7 linked regions of the Homo sapiens genome follow. The protein of the gene in region 1 purifies or fractionates together with the protein of each later gene. This does not show direct contact. Each region holds a gene or a part of one and is shown in the gene's direction. Other genes may lie near its edges. The genes, in order: SART3, RPL26L1, LSM3, LSM8, LARP7, LSM4 and PRPF8.

Evidence for each region.
Region 2: the proteins of SART3 (region 1) and RPL26L1 purify together in Homo sapiens (affinity purification with mass spectrometry; 3 studies listed by BioGRID and IntAct, with this or other methods). This does not show direct contact.
Region 3: the proteins of SART3 (region 1) and LSM3 purify together in Homo sapiens (co-immunoprecipitation; 3 studies listed by BioGRID and IntAct, with this or other methods). This does not show direct contact.
Region 4: the proteins of SART3 (region 1) and LSM8 purify together in Homo sapiens (affinity purification with mass spectrometry; 5 studies listed by BioGRID and IntAct, with this or other methods). This does not show direct contact.
Region 5: the proteins of SART3 (region 1) and LARP7 purify together in Homo sapiens (affinity purification with mass spectrometry; 5 studies listed by BioGRID and IntAct, with this or other methods). This does not show direct contact.
Region 6: the proteins of SART3 (region 1) and LSM4 purify together in Homo sapiens (affinity purification with mass spectrometry; 5 studies listed by BioGRID and IntAct, with this or other methods). This does not show direct contact.
Region 7: the proteins of SART3 (region 1) and PRPF8 purify together in Homo sapiens (affinity purification with mass spectrometry; 4 studies listed by BioGRID, with this or other methods). This does not show direct contact.

Annotation. Positions count from the first base shown.
Region 1 is NC_000012.12:108,554,674-108,558,173, reverse strand, and holds part of SART3 (spliceosome associated factor 3, U4/U6 recycling protein), read left to right. Parts: intron 1-3,500. UniProt on the Homo sapiens protein: U6 snRNP-binding protein that functions as a recycling factor of the splicing machinery. Promotes the initial reassembly of U4 and U6 snRNPs following their ejection from the spliceosome during its maturation.
Region 2 is NC_000005.10:172,962,424-172,965,923, forward strand, and holds part of RPL26L1 (ribosomal protein uL24-like), read left to right. Parts: intron 1-3,500.
Region 3 is NC_000003.12:14,181,817-14,185,316, forward strand, and holds part of LSM3 (U6 snRNA-associated Sm-like protein LSm3), read left to right. Parts: intron 1-2,120; coding exon 2,121-2,216; intron 2,217-3,500. UniProt on the Homo sapiens protein: Plays a role in pre-mRNA splicing as component of the U4/U6-U5 tri-snRNP complex that is involved in spliceosome assembly, and as component of the precatalytic spliceosome (spliceosome B complex).
Region 4 is NC_000007.14:118,187,164-118,190,663, forward strand, and holds part of LSM8 (LSM8 homolog, U6 small nuclear RNA associated), read left to right. Parts: intron 1-1,114; coding exon 1,115-1,242; intron 1,243-3,500. UniProt on the Homo sapiens protein: Plays a role in pre-mRNA splicing as component of the U4/U6-U5 tri-snRNP complex that is involved in spliceosome assembly, and as component of the precatalytic spliceosome (spliceosome B complex).
Region 5 is NC_000004.12:112,654,143-112,658,086, forward strand, and holds the end of LARP7 (la-related protein 7), read left to right. Parts: coding exon 1-17; intron 18-3,104; coding exon 3,105-3,185; 3' UTR 3,186-3,444; downstream 3,445-3,944. UniProt on the Homo sapiens protein: RNA-binding protein that specifically binds distinct small nuclear RNA (snRNAs) and regulates their processing and function.
Region 6 is NC_000019.10:18,309,577-18,313,076, reverse strand, and holds part of LSM4 (U6 snRNA-associated Sm-like protein LSm4), read left to right. Parts: intron 1-374; coding exon 375-473; intron 474-3,215; coding exon 3,216-3,399; intron 3,400-3,500. UniProt on the Homo sapiens protein: Plays a role in pre-mRNA splicing as component of the U4/U6-U5 tri-snRNP complex that is involved in spliceosome assembly, and as component of the precatalytic spliceosome (spliceosome B complex).
Region 7 is NC_000017.11:1,674,868-1,678,367, reverse strand, and holds part of PRPF8 (pre-mRNA-processing-splicing factor 8), read left to right. Parts: intron 1-673; coding exon 674-803; intron 804-1,195; coding exon 1,196-1,392; intron 1,393-1,656; coding exon 1,657-1,863; intron 1,864-1,997; coding exon 1,998-2,161; intron 2,162-2,313; coding exon 2,314-2,440; intron 2,441-2,555; coding exon 2,556-2,748; intron 2,749-3,028; coding exon 3,029-3,216; intron 3,217-3,500. UniProt on the Homo sapiens protein: Plays a role in pre-mRNA splicing as core component of precatalytic, catalytic and postcatalytic spliceosomal complexes, both of the predominant U2-type spliceosome and the minor U12-type spliceosome.

The DNA of each region.
Region 1 (3,500 bases):
TTTTTTTTTTTGAGAGCATCTCACTCTTGCCCATGCTGGAGTAGTGGTGTGATCATGGCTCACTGCAGCTAGGACCTCCCAGGCTCAAGTGATCCTCCCAGCTCATCCTCCAAAGTATCTCGGACTACAGGCATGCACCCCCATGCCTGGCTAATTAAAAATATTTTTTTTTTGTAGAGATGGGTTCTTACTATGTTGCCCAGGCAGGTGCTGAATTCCTGAGCTGAAGTGATGCTCCTGCCTCAGCCTCCCAAAGTGCTCGGATCACAGGCGCAAGCTACTGCACGTGGCCTTGATTATATTTTATGGTAGCTGGCAGTTTGCTGTGGTATCTGTCTAACAAAAGCAAATATTTTCCATTATATGTGTTTGTGCGCTGAAATTAAAAGTGGCACTTCATGGTGGCTTCGGCAGATTTGTCAGTGCAGCAGTACGGAGACTATGGCTTTGCAACCCTGAACCCAAGCCTTCCATTGAGTAGTGGAAAGGCCTTGTACAAGTTATTTCAGCTCGCAGAGTCTTGGGTGTCCCAGTTAGTAAAATGAAGGTTGTAATAGTGCTTTCCTCATGGGACTGTTGTGGGGCATGGCACAATGTGCGTAAAGCGCCTGGCACAGTTTGGCGCATAATAGGTGCTGCTCCATTCTCCCTTCCCTGCCTTTGATTGCACCAGTTGTTTTCTTTCCATCAGTCCTCTCTATTATTTCTCCCCCATTCTAGTACAGCTAGGTATAACACATTTTTCACATTGCTAGGGAGTTAAATCAGTTAGCAGATCATTTTGTGATTGGTTAAGTTTCCTTTAAAGCATCTATGTTGTTAATCCCAGCTACTCGGGAGGCTGAGGCAGGAGAATCGCCTGAACCCGGGAGGCAGAGGTTGCAGTGAACTGAGATCACACCACTGCACTCCAGCCTGGGTGACAGAGCAAGATTCCACCTCAAAAAAAAAAAAAAAAAAAAAAAAACTATGTCATTAATGATGTTCTAAGACCAGAATAGACCAGCATATGTACTCATTTATCAGTATAGATTGAACTATGTGGAAATAGCTCTTTTAAGTGCATTTCAGTATGTATTTAATATATGTACTTTCAGAGTACTTGTCCACATATAGTATCTTCATCATTTTACCCTAAAAATCAGAAGTTTACACCAAAAGCCACACCTTAAAAGTCAGCTTCTTGACTTTAGCGACTTTTATACCTTTTTCTTCTGCTGATCCACACATGGTGTTCATGTGAGGGGCACTTGCATGCATAGATATTCGTGACACTGACTAGCAAGTGCTCTCCCACTCCTGTTTGTGCTCCGCAAGCACACTCTATTGAGTTCAGACTGGTGATGTGGTGGGGAGAGCCTTGAATGTTCTTTAATGAAGAAAGTGTATCCTTCTCAAACTTCACTTCTCAAACATCCCAAACTGCGGTTACTTTGTGTGACACACTTGATAGGTGATTTTGAAACATCAGTGTGTCATGATAGCCCATTTAAGAACCAGAGCTTTAGCCCAGCTCTTTCATGGTACAGATGAGGAAACAGAACAAGTGGGGATTAGAACACTTGTGTCCTGATCTGGTCCAGTGCTTTTCAGCCTATCGTGTGATCATCGGATGAGTTCAGCTTCTCAGGTTTTATGAATCATAAGCAGGAGAACATTGCTAAAAGTCTTAAGATTTAAAACTTAGAGATCATGTTCTTATCTGTAATTGATTATTATCTTTTGGCATGTAATTTGATAAATACAAAGCAGTTCACATCATGTACAAGAGTTTCTCACCAGATGCAGTGGCTCACACCTGTAGTCCTAGCATTTTGGGAGGCTGAGGCAGGATGATCCCTTGAGCCCAGGAGTTTGAGACCAGACTGGGCAAGATGGTGAGACCCTGTGTTTACAAAAAATAAATTTAAAACATTTAGCTATGTGTGGTGGCATGAGCTTGTAGTAGCAGCTACTCAAGAGGCTGAGGCGGGAGGATCACTTGAGCCTGGGAATTTGAGGCTGCAGTGATTTGTGACTGCCACGGCACTCCAGCCTGGGTAAGAGTGAGACCCTGACTCAAAAAAAAAAAAAGAGAGTTTCTCAAAGTCACTGTTTTTCAACCTGGGGGTCATAGTCATAGGTTGTGAATTTATTTTAGCTGAAACAGCAAGTGCCACCTGAGCCATAGTGTTTTTCAACTGCATGGGTCTGTTTTGGGCTCTCTCTTCAGTTTGTCTATCCTGTGCCAATTCCACTGATTAACTTATTGCTAAGGCTTGCTATCTGGTAAGACAAATCCTCCTACCTGCTTTTTTTCTTTCCTTGCAGGGTGTTTTGGCTCTTTCATATAAATTTTAGAATTATTTTGTCAAGGTCTGTGAAAAACCCTGTTGGTTTTTTTATTTGAATTGCATTGAATTTATGGATTATTTAGGGGAGAATTGACGTCTTTGCCATAATGATTATTCTAACCCAGAACATGCATATAACTCCATTCGTCTAGGTATTGAATATTCTTTCTATTTTTGAGACATGGTCCTGCTCTGTTTCCCAGGCTGGAGTACAGTGGCATGATCTCAGCACACTGCAACCTCCGCCTGCTGGGCTGAAGCGATCCTTTCACCTCAGCCTTTCGAGTAGCTGGGACCACAGGCATGTGCCACCAGACTCAGCTAATTTTTACAGTTTTTGTAGAGACGGGGTTTTGCCCTGTTGCCCAGGCTGGTCTTGAATTCCTGGACTCAAGTGATCTGCCTGCCTCGGCCTCCCACAGTGCTGGGATTACAGGTGTGAGCCACCGCCCCCGGCCAAGTCTTTAATATCTTTCAATCAAGTTTAAAAACATTTTGCCATAGAGGTCTCACACATCTTTTGTTAGATGTATTTCTAGGTACTTTATAGTGCTTGATGTTTATGCTATCCTATTTAAAATTACATTTTAAAGCTTGCTGGTTTATAGAAATGTAATTTTTTTATTGTAAAAAACATATAACGTAAACTTTGCTATCTTATTCTTAAGTGTATGGTTCAGTAGTGTTAAGTATAGTCACATTGTTGTGAAGCAGATCTCCAAAGTTTTCATTTGCATATATACAACTCTACCAATTAAACAGCTCTCCTTCTCCTTCCTTCCCAATCCCCTGATAACTACCATTGTAGTTTTCTGTCTCTATGAATTTGACTAGATACTTCATATAAGTGGAATCATACAGTATTTGTCTCTTTGTATATAATTGATTTTTATACATTGCTCTTATTGCTTGTCACTTTGCTAATCTTGTTTATTATTTCCAAATGATTTGTTTGTAGATGAGTTTTGGTTTACTATACATTGATATCATCTGACCATAATTAACAGTTCTCATTCTTTTCTCTATATCTGTTTCTTTTCCTTGTCTCATTGTTAAAACCCCAGACCTCCAGTACAGGGTTAAATAGAAGGCAATACTGGGAAGTTTTTTGTGTTTTTTAAAAGGAATTTTAATGTATTATTAAATTTACTAAATATAAATATATAA
Region 2 (3,500 bases), on another chromosome or scaffold:
CTTGAACCCGGGAGGCGGAGGTTGCAATGAACCGAGATTGTGCCATTGCACTCCAGCCTGGGTGACAGAGTGAGACTCTGTCTCAAAAACAACAACAACAACAACAAAAAACGGCCAGGCACAGTGGCTCACGCCTGTAATCCCAGCACTTTGGGAGGCTGTGGCAGGCAGATCATGAGGTCAGGAGATTGAGACCATCCTGGCTAACACGGTGAAACCCATCTCTACTAAAAATATAAAAAATTAGCTGAGCGTGGTGGTGGGCGCCTGTAGTCCCAACTACTTGGGAGGCTGAGGCAGGAGAATGGCGTGAACCCGGGAGGGGGAGCTTCCAATGAGCCAAGATCATGCCACTGCACTCCAGCCTGGGTGACAGAGTGAGGCTCTGTCTCAAAAAAAAAAAAAAAAAAAAAAAATCCTTTGGCAGTTTTATATCTGCCAAAACTGACCTGTACATTTTACTGTATGTAAATGATGCCTCAGTTAAAAATAAAATGATTTCAAATTGTGTTCATTGCTATGAAGAAAATATAAAGGATGCTATGATATTGATTAAAGGACCTGGGAAGGCTTCTCTGAGGAACTAATACATTTAAGAGAAGACCTGAGAAATGAGGAGTTAGCCAGGTGCTTACCAATGGTGCCTGATGTGCTTATAAAATCTAAAATCATGGCCAGGCGCGGTGGCTCACGCCTGTAATCCCGACACTTTGGGAGGCTGAGGTGGGTGGATCACCTGAGGTCAGGAGTTCGAGACCAGCCTGGCCAACATGGTGAAACCCCACCTCTACTAGAAATACAAAAATTAGGTGTGGTGGCACACACCTGTAATCCCAAGTACTCGGGAGGCTGAGGCAGGGGAATCGCTTTAACCTAGGAGGTAGAGGTTGCAGTGAGCCAAGATTGCGCCACTGCACTCCAGCCTGGGCAACAGAGTAAAACTCGGTCTCAAAAAAAAAAAAAAAAATCTAAAATCATTGACTGCAAGGCCCTCTATGGGCCAATCCTGGTCTACTTCTCCATCCTCATCTCCTCCTAACCCCCATGTGCTCTACACTTTAACCACACTGGGCTTCTGGGGTCTTTAAATACACCTTGATCTTTTCTCCCGCTGGAATGTTCTCTCTGCCTGGAGTGCTCTTCCTTCTCTCCTTTACATAGGTAACTCCTCATTCTTCGGGTCCTACCTTAAATGTCCGTTCCTCAGAGAAGCCTTCCCAGATCCTTTAACCAATATTATAGCCTAGCATTCTTTATTTTTTCTTCGTAGCAGTAAGCACAATTTGAAATCATTTTATTTTTAACTGAGGCATAATTTACACACAGTAAAATGCACAGGTCAGTTTTGGCAAATGTAAAACCAAATAGCCATTACCCTAATTATGATTAGACCATTAAAAAGACCATTTTTAATCATCCCAGTAAGTTCCTATGTGACTTATTCCAGTTAGTGGTCATGTATTTGTCTATGTACTCATTAACTGCTTACTGGCCATCAGGCTAAGCTCCATGAAACCAGAGAGTTCATCTTGTTTGTTGTCTGACCTCAGTGCAGAGCCTGACACTTAGAGAGGAGAAGGGTCAGTCAATATTTGTTGAATGAATGAAAAAAATTTTTTGAGTAGGTAAGATGTAGAAGGTGAGACAGAGAAGGAGGGCAAAGAGGGAGAAGGAGCTGCTGTTAAATATATATATATTTTAAATTAGAGACATTTATTTATTTATTTATTTATTTAAAAATAGGTATTGCTTTGCTGCCCAGGCTGGTCTCAAACTCCTGGCTTCAAGCAATCCTTCTGCCTTGGCCTCCCAAAGTGCTGGGATTACAGGCATGAGCCACAGTGTCTGGCCTGTTGCCTTTTTTTTTTTTTTTTTTTTTGAGACAGAGTTTCACTCTTGTTGCCCAGGCTGGAGTGCAGTGGCACAATCTCGGCTCACTGCAACCTCTGCCTCCCGGGTTCAAGCCATTCTCCTCCCTCAGCCTCCCAAGTAGCTGAGATTACAGGCACACACCACCATGCCTGGCTAATTTTCATATTTTTAATAGAGACGGGGTTTTACCATGTTGGTCAGTCTGGTCTCGAACTCCTGACCTCAGGTGATCCACCCGCCTCAGCCTCCCCAAGTGCTGGGATTACAGGCGTGAGCCACCACGCCCGGCTGCCTGTTGCCATTTTTTGAATGCCTAAGAGGTATGAATTGTTTCAGCCAAAGGCCATGCTGGCTGAACACTTCTCCACCAGGAGAATAAAATAGCCCTGATTGGGTTTGTTAATATTGCCTCCTCTCACGGGATCTTCTGAATCTCACTTACCTTCCTCTTTCTCTGAGTAGGTGATGGTTCCTCCTACTTTACAGAGAAAATTGAAGTTATCAGCCAGGAACTTTCAGAAATCGTGGCTCCACACCTACACGTTTACCTGTAGTTCCACCCCTCTTATTTTCTTTCCCTTCTGTTACAATGAAAGAAATATCCCAGGCCTGGTGCAGTGGCTCACGCCTGTAATCTCAACACTCTGAGAGGCCAAGACAGGTGGATCGCTTGAGGCCAGGAGTTCGAGACCAGCCTGGCCAACATGGCGAAATTCCGTCTGCACTAAAAATATAAAGATTAGCTGGGCGTGATGGCACATGCCTGTAATCCCAGCTACAAGGGAGGCTGAGGCAATGAGATATCACTTGAACCCAGAAGGCGGAGGTTGTGGTGAGCCAAGATCACGCCACTGCACTCCAGCATGGGTAACACAGCAAGTCTCTGTCTCAAAAAAAAAAGAAAGAAATATCCCTGTTTCTGCCTAAGCCTAATCCATCTGCCACTGGGTGCTGCTCCATTCTTCTCTTGGAGCTTTTTTGGTCCCTTATCTTCTTTCTCTGTAGTTTCTTTTACCGTCTTCCTCCATACTTGTTCCTTCCATCAGCATTTAAACACAATCATGTTTTCCCTTCTTTAAAAATAAAAAATAAAGGAAAGTTCCCTTAGCTTTCCATCCCCCTCAAACATCTATCCCCTTCTCATCTTCAGAGCCAAGCTCCTTTGGACTGTCTTTTCTCACCTTCACCTTCTCACCTGGTACACTCATCACTTTACTGTTAATGGCCTCCATCCCAGCACTCAGTGAAGGCATTCCAGCCACAGCCACTGTTGATGACCTTGTTGTCAGATCTGTTAAATACCTTATCCTCTGTGTTCTTGACAGTCCCACAGAATTTGACATTCTCTTGGCTGCTGTAACACCACACTTGCATGATTTCCCATTCGCTCTGGCCACATTAATCTCTCACAAGCTCTTCCAAAATGCTGGCTTTTCTCACATGTGTACATTCTGCCCTTTTCTCATACCATCACTCCTTGAGCAACATGAAGCTCCTAATTGCCTCTCTGTGGATGACTCCCACGTCTCTATTGCTGGCCCAGTTGGCATTCCAGCTGTGTCTGAATTCTCTGTTAGAATGTCCCCAGATGCTTCAAATTTAGCATGTTCCAAACTAAACTATTTCCT
Region 3 (3,500 bases), on another chromosome or scaffold:
GGCATGTATTCACATTTTTAACATTTTTTCTTTTAATAGAAATACGTTTATTATAGAACATTTTTATTCCCTTCATTTTTCCCTTCTGTTTATTTGTAAATAATATTTACTTGTCCTCCATTCGTAAATGTTTTTTAAATTTAAAACACAAATATGTGTTTTATTAGGAAAAGTTAAACAGCACAAAAATATATAGAGTAAAAAGTGAAATCCCATTTCTTCTACTGGTAATCACTACTAAAAATGGGATTATCTTGGCCAGGTGCAGTGGCTCATTCCTGTAATCTCAGCACTTTGGGAGACTGGGGCAGGAGGATCACTTGAGGCCAGGAGTTCTCTGTGTTGCCAGCCTGGGCAACATAGAGAGACCCTGTCTCTACAAAAAATAAAATTTAAAAATTGGGTTACCTTTTCTGTATGTTTACACATATACACTCATATATGTACATGTGCACATACTTGCATTATGTACACCCTACCTCTACAAAACATGGATCTTGCCATACATGTTTTTCAGTACCTTTTTTTTTTTTCACTTAATCTTTCTTGGAAATTGATCATGAGTGCATTTAATTTTCGTTTATTCTTTTTAATGACTACCTAGGATTCTGTATATGATAGTGATCGATTTTTTTTCATTTCTTGCTACAAATACGTAAATACTTGCAGTAAGCATTTTTTTACATATTTCTTTGTGCATATCTGCAAAATATCTGTAGAATTGGTCCCTTGAAATAATCCCATTTGTTCATAGAGAACCCTGAAGGTTTTGCCTCTCCTTAATGACTTGTTACTTTCCTAAGTGTGTTGTTTTTAGTATTGCTACTCTACCCTAAAGTGATTAAAAATAGCTAACATTTATTGAGCATTAATTATAGACCAGGTACTATTATTCTAAGCATTTTGTGTGTGATATCTCATTTAATCTTTATAACAACCCTATGATGATACATACTAATTATTCCTGCTTTGCAGTGTAGGAAGCTCAGGCTCAGAAAGGTACAGTCACTTGACGGTAAAGGGAGAGCCAGAATTTGAATCTAGGTTGTCTGACCTGAGCCCCACTCTTAAGTACTGTGGTTCCGCCTTCCACAAAACCTAAAGATAAAGAACCTCTGGGCTTGGAAAGGAAATAGGGACCCAGGGAGACAATCTACAGCTGGCCTTAAAGGAAGAGAGACTCCAGGAAAGGAATGGTGGTAACTTTGGGAATACAAATGGAATTGAGTTTAATTACTTAAGTTTGTGGCTCTTGGAGGCTTCTTCAGTTCCCTGTGTAAACTTGATGGTCTCTATCCTAAATGGCCCCAACTTTCTGTTTGTTTTGTGCCTCTCAGCTATACATGTTTGATCTTGTTAGTGTGCCCTGCTTAGCAGTTCCCCACATGGCTGACAAGTGACTTTTATTTTGATGTGAGCAGGTGAACCATGTAACACGTTGTTAGAAGTAAACTTGAGTTCTGAACAAGGTCCCAGAAAGTGCACCTTTTAGTAAAATGAATGAACTTTGGAGCTTGGATTGAATATCTTAGCTGTAACATTTATTGATTGAGCCCACAGGTACTAAACACATTTAAGTTCTGGATAGGTTAGAAATGGGCAGGGTGTTGCTCTACTTACTTTCTCTCTGCGACATGTGGTCTACTGTGTGCCTTTAGAAGACTGCAATGGCATTATCTTACCAGTAAACAAAGGATTTTATCTTCTTTACTGTATTTTTCTTGTCAGATTGTTATAGGTGAAATTGAAGGATGTCTACTGATAAATGATGAAGATGAATCTGCTGTTTTTCATAATTAAATATTATAAATGATGTGACTGCCTTAGATAACAAGTGGGGTGGAGACTTTAAAAATAATTTCAAGTGATTTGAAGTAAATTTATTTTTGGCAATATAAGCAGTTTTATATTTTTATCAGGTCAATTAAGTAATCATTGGAAGTGACTTGTGAAGAAACAGTATATTAGTACTGTAGGATTACTTTTTATTTGCATGTAAAAGTTTGTGATGTAAGTATCAAATGCCCTAGTTGTAATTGAGCAATTTGCATATTGTTAAGCCTTTATCATTTTTGTAATTTGATTATTAAATTTCTTGGTTCTGTACCCTCCCACTTTAGGCTTATGATCAACATTTAAATATGATCTTGGGAGATGTGGAAGAAACTGTGACTACTATAGAAATTGATGAAGAAACATATGAAGAGATATATAAAGTAAGTCATGCAATTCTATTCATTGCTTTGCAAATATCAGCTGTTCTCTCTCGAACAGCTTAACCCATATTTATGGGAAGCCTGTCATGTTTTGACACCTACTTATGGACTCAGTAGAGCATAGCAATTAAAAGCAAGGGTTCTGGCATCTGACAGACCCTGTTGCCAGTACTGGCTTGACCACTTCCTACTTGGGCTACCTTGGGCAAGGGAATTAAGTTAGCTGAGTTCTCATTGGTGAGCAGGAATACTACCACTTACCTCATAGGGTTCCCAGATTCAGTGAGATACAACAATGCAAGGTGGCTATGTATAATAGTGTGTAACAGTAATAGTGGACAGTGTTCTTTCGTTTTCTGTGGATTTGATCTATTAATACTTAATTTATTAGAAACTGAAACTGAAAAATTTTTTAAATATTTATTCATTAAAAAAACCTGGGCCGGGCGCGGTGGCTCACGCCTGTAATCCCAGCACTTTGGGAGGCCGAGGCGGGCGGATCACGAGGTCAGGAGATCGAGACCATCCCGGCTAAAAAAACGGTGAAACCCCGTCTCTACTAAAAATACAAAAAATTAGCCGGGCGTAGTGGCGGGCGCCTGTAGTCCCAGCTACTTGGGAGGCTGAGGCAGGAGAATGGCGTGAACCCGGGAGGCGGAGCTTGCAGTGAGCCGAGATCCCGCCACTGCACTCCAGCCTGGGCGACAGAGCGAGACTCCGTCTCAAAAAAAAAAAAAACCTGGCCAGGCATGGTGGCTCACACCTGTAATCCTAGCACTTTGGGAGGCTGAGGCAGGTGGATCACCTGAGGTCAGGAGTTCGAGACCAGCCTGACCAATATGGTGAAGCCCTGTCTCTGCTAAAAATACAAAAAATTAGCTGGGTGTGGTGGCATATATCTATAATCCCAGCTACTTGGGAGGCTGAGGCAGGAGAACTGCTTGAATCTTGGAGGCGGAGGTTGCAGTGAGCTGAGATTGTGCCATTGCCCTCCAGCCTTGTCAACAAGAGTGAAACGCTGTCTCAAAAAAAAAAAGGCTGGGTGCAGTGGCTCATGCCTGCAATCCCACCACTTTGGGAGGCCAAAGCGGGTGGATCACCTGAGGTCAGGAGTTCGAGACCACCCTGGCCAACATGGCAAAACCCTGTCTCTACTAAAAATACAAAATATTAGCCGGCCGTGGCGGCAGGCACTGGCAATCCCAGCTACTCGGGAGGCTGAGGCAGGAGAATCACTTGAACCTGGGAGGTAGAGGTTGCGGTAAGCTGAGATCGTGCTACTGT
Region 4 (3,500 bases), on another chromosome or scaffold:
AGTTACAGATTTCATTCTCATTTTATTTCATTCTCTTTTTTATTTCATTCTCATTTTATATATTTTGACTTTCAGAAGATAAAACAGTTTAAGAACTTGAGAGGTTTAACCATCAAAACCAATGTTAGTTGATATTTCTTCAGAAACTTGAATACCATGTGAGTTACTCTGTTATGCTAGACCCATGTCTTCTTTTATTCAATACTAAGCTTTCATAAAACTCTCCCTGATTATTTCCTTCAAGTTCTGGTTTTAATTAGTATAGTCACATTTGTATCTACCTTACTGGGAGAATTAAACAATAAATCCATATGATACACATTAAACAATACATGTGAGACACACAGAACACTGGTAACTAGTATGTACTCATTAGGTGTTACATGTAACTACTAGTTAAATTTTTAGTATATTTATGGGACTGATTTGAATCTGAAAAATGGCAAATTATATTTACTTGTGTATAATAGTATAGAATGTTATGGTTTAGTGGTCTGGCTCAGGAGCTAGCCTTTTGTGGTTCATCTCCTGGCTCTGCCACTTACTACCCATGTGATCATAAGACACACCATTCTGTGCCTCAGTTTCTTCTTTGAAATGGGGCTAATTATAGTACTAAATCAAAGGGTAGAGATGAGTTGAGAAAATGTGTACAGTGTGTTTAGCACACTGCCTAGTGCTGGCATATAGCATATAGTGATACTATTACATTGCTGTAGTTGGTATGTATGGTTCTTCCTTATTTATGTATATTTGGCTATCATTTTCCCTTAAATATCCTTTGTCTTAGTTTATACCTTTAGCTGCTGGTCTACATAAGCTTTTATGCTACTTACTTGGAGATAGTCACATTAGTACATAGGTGTCCTTTGCAACTGCTGTCAACTCTACATATGAGTGAGATGTGTGGTGCAGGTCCCCCCACCCCAGCCAAATAACCAAGAGGTAAATTGTGTACCCTCGAATACTGTTGGTTATAAAAAAGGCATTTTATTTGCCGTCGTATAGGTACTTGTATTGGAATACCTGGCAACTAAAATGACTGTGAGGTTAAATTTACACTTTCAGGTAAACCAGAATATTTCTCTTTTTCTCCTGAATATTTTCTTTACAGGGAACACTGAAAGGTTTTGACCAGACCATTAATTTGATTTTGGATGAAAGCCATGAACGAGTATTCAGCTCTTCACAGGGGGTAGAACAAGTGGTACTAGGATTATACATTGTAAGAGGTGACAACGTGTAAGTAAAATATATCTGTTAAAATTATAAATGATACTGCCTTACTTTATGGAGAAGAGGCTTTCCCCAAAATACCCTACTGTATTGTCCATACATAGTTAATAGAATCTTGCATTCATTTCTTTCGTAAATATACCTTTTCTTATGTTTGTGTAAAATAAGGCATATGTATACATTTTATGTCAGCACTTCTTTAGGTTTCAACCAAAGCTGTCTCTCTACAAATTAAACTTTTACCTGAGATTTGCCCATTTTTCTACTAGTTAAGTAGCCTGGGTAGAGTCCAGAAAGGGCTCTGCCTTATATTAAATACTTCATTAGAGAGACTTCTTAAAACGTTCTTTCAAATACCCAGAATTTTAGAGGAACATATTTCTAGAGTCCAAGGCCAAAGTTTGAAAAATGTTTTGAAATCTCTGATTTGAACAATATTAATTCATGCTCAATAACATAGGTGTATTTATAAATAAGTACTTACTCGTTATTCATTTTCTTTTAATTTTTTAGTATCATTGACACACTTAAGATGTCCCTGTGGCCTCAGTTTACTTGGGACAGACAGATATAAAAGTTCAAGAGTAATTGGCCAGGCATGGTGCCTGTAATCCCAGCACTTTGGGAGTCTGAGGCAAGTGGATCAGGTCAGGAGTTCAAGACCGGCCTCGCCAACATGGCAAAACACTGTCTCTACTAAAAATACAAAAATTAGCCAGGCTTGGTGGCGTGCGCCTGTAGTTCCAGCTACTTGGGAGGCTGAGGTGGGAGAATCACTTGAACCCAGGAGGTAGAGGTTGCAGTGAGCCGAGATCACCCTACTGCACTCCAGCCTGGGTGACAGATTGAGACACCAATTCAAAAAAAAAAAGGCCGGGCACAGTGGTTCAAGCATGTAATCCCAGCACTTTGGGAGGTGGAGGCGGGTGGATCACTTGAGGTCAGGAGTTCGAGACCAACTTGGCCAATGTGGTGAAACCGCGTCTTTACTAAAAATATAAAAATTAGCCAGGCGTGGTGGCGCAAGCCTGTAATCCCAGCTACTCGGGAGGCTGAGTCAGGAGAATTCGCCTGGGAGGTGGAAGTTGCAGTGAGCCGAGATCGCAGCACTGCATTCCAGCCTGGGCAACAAGAGCAAAACTCCGTGTCAAAAAATAAAAAAGAAAAGTGGCTAATGTGGTTCACGTGCCGTGGCTCATGCCTATAATCTCAGCACTTTGAGAGGCCAAGGTGGGTGGATCACCTGAGCCCAGGAGTTCAAGACCAGCCTGGCCAGCATAGTGAAACCCCGTCTCTCCTTAAAATAGAAAAATTAGCCTGGTGTGGTGGTGCATGCCTGTAATCCCAGCTACTTGGGAGGCTGAGGCAGAAGAATTTCTTGAACCTGGTAGATGGAGGTTGCAGTGAGCCAAGGTTGCGCCTTTGCACTCCAGCCTGGGCAAAAAGAGTGAAACTCCATCTTGAAAAAAAAAAGAAAAGTGGCTGATGTGACAGAGGAACTGAATTTTAAATTTTATTTAATTGTAATTAATTTTAATAGTTACATGTGGCCAGTATTAGTATAGTTATAGAGGCTAGAAGAATGCCAAATCAGTTTTCTAGTGAGTACTACACTGAATCAAAATATAGTTGGAAAGAAGCAAAAGATACATTAGCAATTTTAAGCTAGAACATTTAACAAATTCTAGGGGACTAACTGTCCCCTGGAATAACTTAAAAAGTGCAGGAATAATTTACTCATTTAAGTTGTTTATGTTAGCATCACCTTTAGATGAATAAATAATTTGATCTGTAATCAAAAATCAAGAGTTTATAAAATATTTTAGAGATGACTTTTAGGTGGAGTTACAAGGTGAGCTGTAAGTAATGAGAGAGAGACAGAGCAGATAGGGCCCAGGTCTCTGGATCAGAACAACACTGTTTATATTGGAGCTGTGCATAGTAATTGATTTTAAGGTTTCTCCTACTTAAAACAATTTTTTTTTCTTGAACTTCAGTGAAAAAAGTCTTGTGCTAGAGCCAGCTTCTACTGGCCCATGAAAGCATATTGTTATATTTTAAGGAATTTTACAAGCTGGTTAATTGATGTCTTGTTAGTAGCTTGAAATTGGCCGTGGTGGGAGTGTTTGCACAATGGATATTAGTAAATGCAGCAAATCAGTCTCCCGCTTTTTTTCCAGAGAGCTGGTTTTTAAAAATGTATCAGCATTTCCCTGCTTACCATAGGGATTTTAAATGATACTGAATATTATCATTTAAAATTT
Region 5 (3,944 bases), on another chromosome or scaffold:
AAAGAGGCACTGAAAAGGTAATTGATTCATTTTTGTTTTTTTAGACTAAACTTTCCTTGAACGTTTAATGCCAAAGTCAGTACTAGGTAGTCATAAAATGATCGTAGTTTTGCTATTACCTAACAAAAATTTACTGAGTATATACTATGTTTTAGGTTGGGAGGGAAAAGTCATTTCTCTAGATTTCAAAATGTATGAAATTGAATTATTTTTCTCACAAGGATACATAATTTTAATTTAGATTTTTTCTTTTTAACCAGTGATATACTTTAACAGTCTTGATATCTGGCTGCTATGTCTTGTAGTTTGGTGATAAATGATTATAGAAAGATTATCTTCATGGTAAAAACACAATGTATTCAGAATGTAGTTTATAAAGATAGGAGGCTCCATAGATAAGATGGAGAGACTTTATGCATAGTGTTTCCTATAGCAACGATAAGCTTTATTCCTCTTTCTCTAAGATAGTAGGTAATACAAACAAGCTTAAATAATTTAAAGCAAGCCCCTCTTTCAGTAATTTTATTTTTCTGTCACTTAAAATGATACTGGTCTGATCAGTAGTGGAATCACACCTGGGAATAGCCACTGCTTTCCAGCTTAGGCAACATAGCAAGACCCTGTCTCTTAAAGTTTTAAAACAAATTATTATACATGTAAAGGTTAGTACATTTTAAAAGTGCCTGGAACAAAGTAGGGTACATAATACCTAATATTAACTACAGTCATCAAAATTTAGAAATGCATATTATAAAAGTGTAAGAAAAATGAAAAAGATGAACTTCCTTTTTTGTTAGGTGAGCAAGTTAAAAGTCCTATTTCCTGTAATCTAAGCTTGTTGATTTGGGGTCATATTTATACAAAAAAAAAAAAAAACTAACTTAAAAAGCAAGTGTTTTTCATCAACCTTCTTCTACCATTGCCCAGAATTTATCGTGATTTGTGGGGAGGTGTGAATTTTGTTTCCTTGAAAGGAGACTGAACTTGCTGTGGTGGGGAAGCCTCCTGTGCTTCCCAAGGATTCTTTCAGGGATATGAGGTGTTAATTTCAAAGCCAGTTTGAGATTATTCAAATGTTAAAATCACTAATCCAGAACTGGTAACTGAAGTGAAGTCACTTTGTTAAATAATACCCTTCTAATTGGTGTGAAATTTCATTTAGATTTTATATATTTTTAAAACTAGGAATAAACCTTTTATTTTTCATTTTAAAAATTTAGAGCTCATCTTTGACTAGGAAGTTCTTAAATTGAGTTGGAACACAACTCAGTTATGACGTCAGGATTGTCGTTAACGCAATTTGTTAAGTAGCTATGGAAGTAGCCAGTTGACTCTTGTCGTGAAATGAAACGGAGGTTAACACAGAAAGTAAGTGCTGTGCAAAGCTTGTTGGAAAAAAGGAGTAGACCATAATTAGTTTAGCCAACTTGTTTGCTAGTTAATTCAGCTAATGATTTTTGAGTGCCTTGTGTTAGGCACCATTCTTGGAACCTGGGGTAAAGCCATGAATCACAAAGTCCCCTACTTTCATGAAGCTAACAGATAAACAATATAGTTTAGGTGATGACCAGTGCTAGACAGAAAAATAAAGTGTATTGCAGGAGAGCATTGTAACAGCTGAGGTTGTCTGGAAAACTCTCTGCAAAGGTTATGTTACAGCCAAGACCCATAAGGAAGTGAGCGAGTAAGCCCCAGTAAAGTTTAGAAGTATAGCTTTTCAGGCAGAAGCAAAGAAAATGCAGAGACCGGAAGGGAAGACTGTCAGGGACTAGAAGACCAGTGTAGTTGGAGTACTAGGAGCATCTTAGTAAGTAATGGAAATTGCTTAGAAAAAAAACTAGTAGAACATCAGTGAATCTGCCAAAAGGTTACATAAATACCTTACTGACCTGACAGCCCAATATTTCTACAATAGTGTTGTATTTGGCCCATAATTGAGTAAAAGTAAAAAAATTCTGGCTCTTAATATTCACATTATGGGGCCAGGCACGGTGGCTCATGCCTATAATCCCAGCACTTTAGGAGGCTGAGGCTGGTGGATCACTTGAGGTCAGGAGTTGGAGACCAGCCCGGCCAACATATTGAAACCCTGTCTACTAAAAATACAAAAATTAGCCAGCTGGCACGCACATGTAATCCCAGCTACTGGGGAGGCTGAGGCAAGAGAATTGCCTGAACCTAGGAAGTGGAGGTTGCAGTGAGCCAAGATGGCGCCACTGCACCACAGCCTGGGCAACAGAGCAAGACTCTGTCTCAAAAAAACGAAACTAAAATAATATATTAAACACAAGTAAATTAAATTAGTGATGTATCACAAAAGATCAAGAAGATGAAGGAAAGGTCTGCCAAAAGGGATGTCTCCTATTCATTTTGCTAGCCTAAATCTTTGTAGTATGCCCTATGATTTTGAACACATTGGTAAAAATAGATAACAGCTACTAGAGACAGAATGAAGCTTATTTCTCTTTGGCTTTTAAAACATTTGAATTCTTTTCTGTAAAAATTACTGATACTCAGCAGGTAAAGGCAGAATTTATAAAATTTGTGAACAGCAGCATGGGTATGATAGAGTTCTAAACATCTTTGGATTTTAATTCACCTCAATGATGAATAATAGGCTTTTAGTTTAATCTAAAAGTGAATTCCTTCCAATTGCCATATGGTACCAAACACTTTAAAACTATTTAAATGAATACTCATTAGAATCTATATTTTTTAGAGAAAAAGATTTGCATTTACTCCAAAGTTTAATATTTTAACTTTTTTTTCTCAAGGAAGCTTTTGGAATATTTTAGACATTTTAAACAGTTTTCTTTTTTATTCTGTGTAATTTCATTTGCCTTCCTTAAAAATATTCAACAATTTATGTAAGGGTGTAAGAAATAGGAAATAGTAAATAGCCTTAATAACAGATTTGATTTGTAATTGATTTGACCTGAGCATAATTATCTCATTTGTCATCTTCTCGCTGTTTTTAAAAAATTTCCATTTAAGCTGATAGCTGTGAAATTTTTTCTAGTCATAGTTTTGTGTGTGTGTGTGTGTGTGTGTGTGTGTGTTTTGAGTATCCAATACATTTTAATTTTTGATTTATTTCTCTTTAGTTAATCACCAAAGCTGAAAAGATTAGACTGGCAAAGACTCAACAAGCGAGTAAACATATAAGATTTTCTGAATATGATTGAAAAAAAAAACAGTTCACCTCTTAATACTTCACAAGATACTTGAGCTGTTCTTGGGAGATTCACTTTTATTATGGTAGCACTGCATAATTAATGTGTTTTTAATTAAAAGAAATATCTTTGTTCCTCAACTTGTAAATAAGACTTTTTTCTAGAGACAAATATGATGTATACCACAATTTTTCTTAAACATTTTATTTGTTGAAATTATCTTAGATGTCAGTGTCAGGTGATTTAGTAAATAAATGTGTTTTGAACATTATTTGGAAATGTGTTGATTTTGTTTTTATACTGTAAAAACAAAACATAATTGCAAAAATACTACATGAATATATATAAAGTTTAGAGAAATGTTTAACACTAAACTCTCACTGTACTTAGTTTGTAACTTGCAATACCTTCAATACCTTTTCATGTTGATTTATACAGACATGTTTAATAGTTCATTCTATTCATTCCACTTTGCCTATCTGAGCTTCCATTGAACAATAGACCATAGGGATTGGTTCTAATTAAAATGTTAAATTTTTAAAAGAATTGAGTTTCTTCATAAATCAAGTTAAATGTTTTGTTTTGGTTAGACAAAATAAAATGTATTAGGTGCTATTAGCACAAGAAGGAAAAAATAGAGGAATCAACCTTAGGCAGAACTGAGCTCTGTTATTTTATTCAGGAAAATCATGGGAGTGAAGCATTTAAAGCCTTCCCAGAATTGAACTTAACTGGGTCCATACAGGACTGTCATCTTAATCTCTTATCAAA
Region 6 (3,500 bases), on another chromosome or scaffold:
CAGCTAATTTTTATGATTTTAGTAGAGATGGGGTTTCACCATGTTGGTCAGGATGGTCTCAATCTTTTGACCTCGTGATCTGCCTGCCTCGGCCTCCCAAAGTGCTGGGATTACAGGCGTGAGCCACCGCGCCCGGCCCAGTATCATTTTTTAATTGCACAAAGGTTGGCGTCATGATAGACTGTCTAACTGCCAGCGAAGTGTCTAGCGGAGGCAGAGCCTGTCGCCTGTAAGGAAGGCCATTTAGGGGTCTGGGAACTGTGGGCTGAGGCCCGGAGGTGGTGGTCCATCTCAGGGCAGAGCTACACCTCCTGAGGGGCCCATGGCGCAGGGCTCCAGGGCTACAGCCAACCTCTAGCCTGTCTCTCTTCTAGTTGGTGGAGCTGAAAAATGGGGAGACGTACAATGGACACCTGGTGAGCTGCGACAACTGGATGAACATTAACCTGCGAGAAGTCATCTGCACGTCCAGGGTGGGTGCTGCACCCACCAACGGGGGTGGGATGCAGGGGGTGCACACTCAGCCTCCTCCCTCCCTCCCTGGGCCTCATGGGAGGAGTCAGTGGGGGAGGCCGCCTAGGACTGCTCGTCCTTCCAGGGGTCAGTCAGGAGGGACAGGGCAGGGTGAGCTAGGCCACCAAGTCTCCCAGTGTGCCCTGGACTTTGACCCTGTGGGAGACTTTCCTGCTGTGTGTCTGTTGGTGCCACCCCTGACCTGGAAGGACCTAGGACTGGGGACTCCCTGTGGCTCAGGCTGGGGCAGCCCCCTCCAGGGGAGGCCCAAGACTCCCGGACTCTGCTGCCTTTAGTCCAGCCTGGATGTTGCCTGCACTCTGCGGGCCATGGTAGTGTGGCCCTGGGATGTCCGGGATGCCCAGGTCACGGTGGGCAGGAGCAGCGCCAGGGCCCGGTGGGTCAGGAGCCACCAGCCAGAGCCCAAGACCGGAAGTGCCTGGCTAGGAGTGCTGCTGGGTCGGCCGGGGCTGGAAGATGGTTCCCCTGGTGTCACGGGCCTTCCCTGCCCCTGGGATGACCCACAGAGCACTGAGGAGGAGGCCAGGGATGGTGCTGAAGGCAGCGGCTCCCTTGGACTCCTCCCACCAACCTTCCCTGACCCCATCTGTCTTGTCTCCCTGTGGGTGACAGCCCCCCATGGTATAGGGAGGAAACTGCTGGGGAGCTTGGAGTGCCTGCCTGGGGTCACCTTGACAGGACAACAGGGCTCGAGGGGGGAGGCGCTTCTTCCTGAAGTGGCCGTATCTTGCCCTGACCGCCACCCCCACCCGGGACTGGGCCTCTCATCAGCACAGGGCTGGGCGGGGTGGGGACAGGTGGTGAGGCTGCTGTGCAGCAGCGCTAGAAGCTCTAGAAACTGCTTGCTGGGTTTCGTGCCATAGCCTGTCGGAGGGCGTCTGGGTGGGTCCAGTCTGGCTGTGTCGGATGGTGCCTTGGTGCAGAACCGCGTGCCTCCCATCTGCGGCCAGCGGGGCTCTGTCCACTTCCGGTATTGGAATCACCAGGCGTGTTGCGTGCGTGAGCATGTGCGGTCTTGTGGACACCTCCAGGTCCTAGACATGAGAAGCCTGTTGATTCAGAGGCTGCGTGGTCTCCAGGGGTTGGTTTGGCCTCTGCCTCCAGCTTCGAGTGGACGGATGGCTTTCCCTGAGCAGCCTGCCTCTGTGGCCAGGCGGTGATGCTGCCGTCACATGTGGCTGGGAGGAGAGGCGATGGGAACTCACATCGTCCCCATCTAAGTGGGGCCCTCCCTCCCTCAGAGGCAGGCCGCAGGATGCAGAGACCCCGGGCTGAGAGACCTCTGGAGCGCTGTGGGCAGGAGGCAGGGGCCTCCCTGCAGTGAGCTCAGGCCCTGCCCAGGTTCCTGCACGAGGAAGCCTCTGGGCCCTGCCTGGGAGAGCTGGGCGCCAAGTCACCTGCCCAGGCCCTGAGTCCCCACAGAACCATGGTGTGTCCGCCCCACGAGCCCTCGAGGGGTTCCTGGGAGAGTGAGCACCCAAAGGGGCTGTTCCTCCCCGCCCAGCGCTAGGCCAGGCCACACCTACCCAGGTGTGGAGGAGAGTGTCTGACAGGAGGACTTGGGGATTCGGGCAGGTAAGGCCTTTTGGGGTCAAAGTTAGCCAGATGAGAAGTGGGAAAACCACGTGCAAAGTTCTGGGGGCAAGCCCATGGCGTGTGTTCCGGAAACAGAAAGTTCCATCTGGAGGGAGTGTCGTCGGGCTGGGAGAGGACCGCCAGGGCGGGGCAGGATCTCGGGCCCTAGAGAGCCCTGCTGAGGTTCTTAGACCTTGCCCCCAGGCTGGAGGGGGCCCTGGGTGGGTTCCAAGCTGGAACATACTGTGATCTGACTTTAAAGGGCATCGGGGGCAAAGGCCATCCAGGCGTCGTGCGTGGGTCTGTCCAGGAACCTGGGCGGTGGGGCGGGGCTGGGAAACTGATATGGTAGGAATGGCCCTGGCCCCTGCTAATCCCTCGATCTGTCCCAGTGGGGGCCTCGGAGGCATTGCAGCATGAGTCTGTGTCTTTGCAAGGCCCCCATTTCTCCAGTCTTGGTTAGCTCTCCTAAAACTGGCATCGCTGGGAGCCGCCCTTGAGCCACCCTGGCAGGACCCAAGTCCCCCCATTTCCCGCCCCTCTTCACCCACCACACTAGGCCTGTAGCTTGCTCGCATGTCCCTGCACCCAGCGCAGGCCCTGTCAGGAGATACTTAGATGAATGAATGAGTCAGGGCATGTAGAGAGGCTTCCAGAAGTGAGGTGGGGCTGGGGCAGGAGGAGGAGTAGCTGGGCTTCGGCTGTGTCTGGTGCACAGGGAGGCCCCCACCCGCTCTGGGCTTTGGGCTGCAGGTGAAGAACCCCAACCAGAGAGAGCCCCATCCCAGGCTGGAGGGAGCCCCAGTCAGCCACTCCTGAGCCAGGCCCACGGGCAGAGGATAGGAGCCAGTCTTCCTTGTGAGTGCACAATGGGGGCTGCGCCTACCACACCCACCCTTGCTCCTGGGTGAAGGATTGCCTGGGGTCAGGACAGATCCTGCCTGCAGGGTGGACCCTTTGCCACGTATGTCCCGGGACTGATACTGTGCAGCTTGCAGGGGTGGTACGGGGTGCAGGCTGGGCAGGATCTGCAGGGCCTCCCGCGCTCCCAGGGCTGGGCCAGACGGCCCGGTGGTAAGTTAATAACCTGCTCCCCTTCTCCGCAGGACGGGGACAAGTTCTGGCGGATGCCCGAGTGCTACATCCGCGGCAGCACCATCAAGTACCTGCGCATCCCCGACGAGATCATCGACATGGTCAAGGAGGAGGTGGTGGCCAAGGGCCGCGGCCGCGGAGGCCTGCAGCAGCAGAAGCAGCAGAAAGGCCGCGGCATGGGCGGCGCTGGCCGAGGTGGGTCTCCCCTCTCCAGTGGACGTACCTGGGGCGGGAAGACAGCCACACGTGGCATCCCTCCTTCTTGGGGTTGCCCTTGCAGCGCTGCCTCGGAGCCT
Region 7 (3,500 bases), on another chromosome or scaffold:
GGGATTACAGGTGCCCGCCACCACGCCTGGCAATTTTTTTTTTGTTTTGTTTTGAAACTGAGTCTTTCTCTGTTGCCCCAGCTGGAGTACAATGGCACGATCTTGGCTCACCACAGCCTCCGCCTCCCGGGTTGAAGTGATTCTCCTGCTTCAGCCTCCCAAGTAGCTGGGACTACAGGCGCGCACCACCATGCCTGGCTAGTTTTTGAAATTTTAGTAGAGATGGGGTTTCACTGTATTGGCCAGGCTGGTCTTGAACTCCTGACCTCAGGTGATCCACACTCCTCGGCCTCCCAAAGTACTGGGATTACCAGCGTGAGTCACCGTGCCCAGCCTCACTGGACTTAACTTTCTCAGATCTTTTTTCATGTATACATTTAGACAGGGCTCTTTCCAGGGACCTATTTGGAGAGCAGCTATGACTGTGTCCTTACTGCTCCTTTAAATTCACATGGGCGATCTTAGTTCCTGGTTTTTGCCTTAAGGTTTCTCATTTACCCTTTTGTTTTAGATGTTGAGGTCCCAGAGTTTTTTTTTCTTTTTACCCCTCTACTGCCATACCTACATTCCTCTGTATGTATATTATACATATATGCCCCACCTCTGCCCAGGTTTCTATTGTTGTTTAAATGCATTGCTAACTTGTATTCTTAACTTCTGCTTGGGATCGTAGGGCCCTGTAGGGAAGGGTCCTGGCTGTGGCTTCTGGGCTGCCGGTTGGCGAGTCTGGCTCTTTTTCATGCGTGGCATTACCCCTTTATTAGAGCGATGGCTTGGCAACCTCCTGGCCCGGCAGTTTGAAGGTGAGTGGTTTTCTCTGTGTCCAACTTCTCCTGTTATTGCTTCAAAAGTACCTGCCCCTGTTTGAGTCTGTTCCCTGCTCTTGTATGAGCACTCTTCCTACTGGATTGCCTTTAGGTCCAGTTCTGAAATGAGTCTGACCTAGTATTCTATTTCTTGGGCTTCCTTCTGGGGCCTTGAGAGGCAGTCATGCATTTGCAGGAGTGGAAATTCCTCAGAAGCATAGTTGTGAATGTTTAAGGTAGCTCGTCTTTTTGCATATGCTGGGCACAGGGACGCTTTGTTAATACCTAATTTTATTAATAACCATAATGAGTGAGGAGCATGAAGGTAGAGACCCTTATTGAAAGCAAGGAATCTTCCTTGTAATCCCCTTGGGACACTCTACTTCCAGGTCGACACTCAAAGGGGGTGGCAAAGACAGTAACAAAGCAGCGAGTGGAGTCACATTTTGACCTTGAGCTGCGGGCAGCTGTGATGCATGATATTCTGGACATGATGCCTGAGGGGATCAAGCAGAACAAGGCCCGGACAATCCTGCAGCACCTCAGTGAAGCCTGGCGCTGCTGGAAAGCCAACATTCCCTGGAAGGTGGGTGTCTCTTTATTTCCTTGGAGGCGTAAACATCCGTCTTTAGGGTAGGATTACCACTTCGGGAATCATTAGGGGGCTATCTGGCTCCAATCTCTTTTCTTTTCCCTTTTAGACAGGGAAAAGAAGCACCATGTTGCTTAGGCTGGCCTCAAGCTCCTGAGCTCAAGCGATCCTCCTTAGCCTCCTGAGTAGCCGGGACTACAGATGTGTGCCACAGTGCCTGGCTGGATCCTGGCTTGATTGTGCTTTTTGGACTTTTAGGTCCCTGGGCTGCCGACGCCCATAGAGAATATGATCCTTCGATACGTGAAGGCCAAGGCTGACTGGTGGACCAACACTGCCCACTACAACCGAGAACGGATCCGCCGAGGGGCCACTGTGGACAAGACTGTTTGTAAAAAGAATCTGGGCCGCCTCACCCGGCTCTATCTGAAGGCAGAACAGGAGCGGCAGCACAACTACCTGAAGGTTGGGCAGAGTAGGCTGGGCTGGGTGTGAGTGGTGGGGGAGTGGGCAAGAGGGAGGACTGTAGAGTTGTGACTGAACCTTGTTCTGGCAGGATCGGGCTGTAGCGGGAGGCTAATTTCATGTCCACCTTACAGGACGGGCCTTACATCACAGCGGAGGAAGCAGTGGCAGTATATACCACCACAGTGCATTGGTTGGAAAGCCGCAGGTTTTCACCCATCCCATTCCCCCCACTCTCCTATAAGCATGACACCAAGTTGCTCATCTTGGCATTGGAGCGGCTCAAGGAAGCTTATAGGTGAGTAGTAGGGTAGATAGGTTCCTGCTGGGAAGGTGACAGCAGGGAATGGCGTCATCCTCAGAGTCCAAAGAAAGAAGGTGTAGCCCCAGTCTTTCCTGGTTTTACTTCCTCCTAGTTTTCCCATTCACCCTTCCCATTGCTTTTGTCAGTGTGAAGTCTCGGTTGAACCAGTCTCAGAGGGAGGAGCTAGGTCTGATCGAGCAGGCCTACGATAACCCCCACGAGGCGCTGTCCCGCATCAAGCGTCACCTCCTCACACAGAGAGCCTTCAAAGAGGTGAGTGAGGCCTCCCAAGTTTTCTTTTTGGTTCTACCAAAGGTAGCAGTTGCCTTTGGTTCTACCAAAGGTAGCAGTTGGTGGATTGGTGTGAACCAGCCTCCTTGTCCCACAGGTGGGCATTGAGTTCATGGATCTGTATAGCCACCTCGTTCCAGTATATGATGTTGAGCCCCTGGAGAAGATAACTGATGCTTACCTGGACCAGTACCTGTGGTATGAAGCCGACAAGCGCCGCCTGTTCCCACCCTGGATTAAGCCTGCAGACACAGAACCACCTCCGCTGCTTGTTTACAAGTGGTGTCAAGGTAGAACTTTCATGAGATCGCCCTGTGAGGAACGGGGCAGGAATTTAGTTCTACGTCAAAAATCTCATCTGGGTAGCATGATTGGTTTACTCTCTTGATGCGTGGTAGTAAAGGGAAGTAGTGTTCGTGTTAAACTGAGGAAAAGCCCATAGTCAAAGCAATCCAAATGAATACGTGGAATCATAGTGGGATTGGTTATGGAAGGTAATGATAGTTCCTGTGGGGCTAGTCTTGCAAGAGGATTTCTAACCTGCTGGAGACCTGCCTTGCTACTCCTCAGGCATCAATAACCTGCAGGACGTGTGGGAGACGAGTGAAGGCGAGTGCAATGTCATGCTGGAATCCCGCTTTGAGAAGATGTATGAGAAGATCGACTTGACTCTGCTCAACAGGCTGCTGCGCCTCATCGTGGACCACAACATAGCCGACTACATGACAGCCAAGAACAACGTCGTCATCAACTATAAGGTGCGTCTCAGGCGCAGTAGCATGGAATTGTGTGTGGAGTGCTTGTCTGGCCCACTGACTCAGAATTTGCTGAGGAGGAGGCTGGGTGCGGTGGCTCATGCCTGTAATCCCAGCACTTTGGGAGGCTGAGGCGGGCAGATCACGAGGTCAGGAGTTCGAGACCAGTCTGGCCAACATGGTGAAACCCCGTCTCTACTTAAAAAAATACAAAAATTAGTTGGGTGTGGTGGTGGGCGCCTGTAATCCCAGCTACTTGGGAGGCTGAGGCAGGAGAATCACTTGAA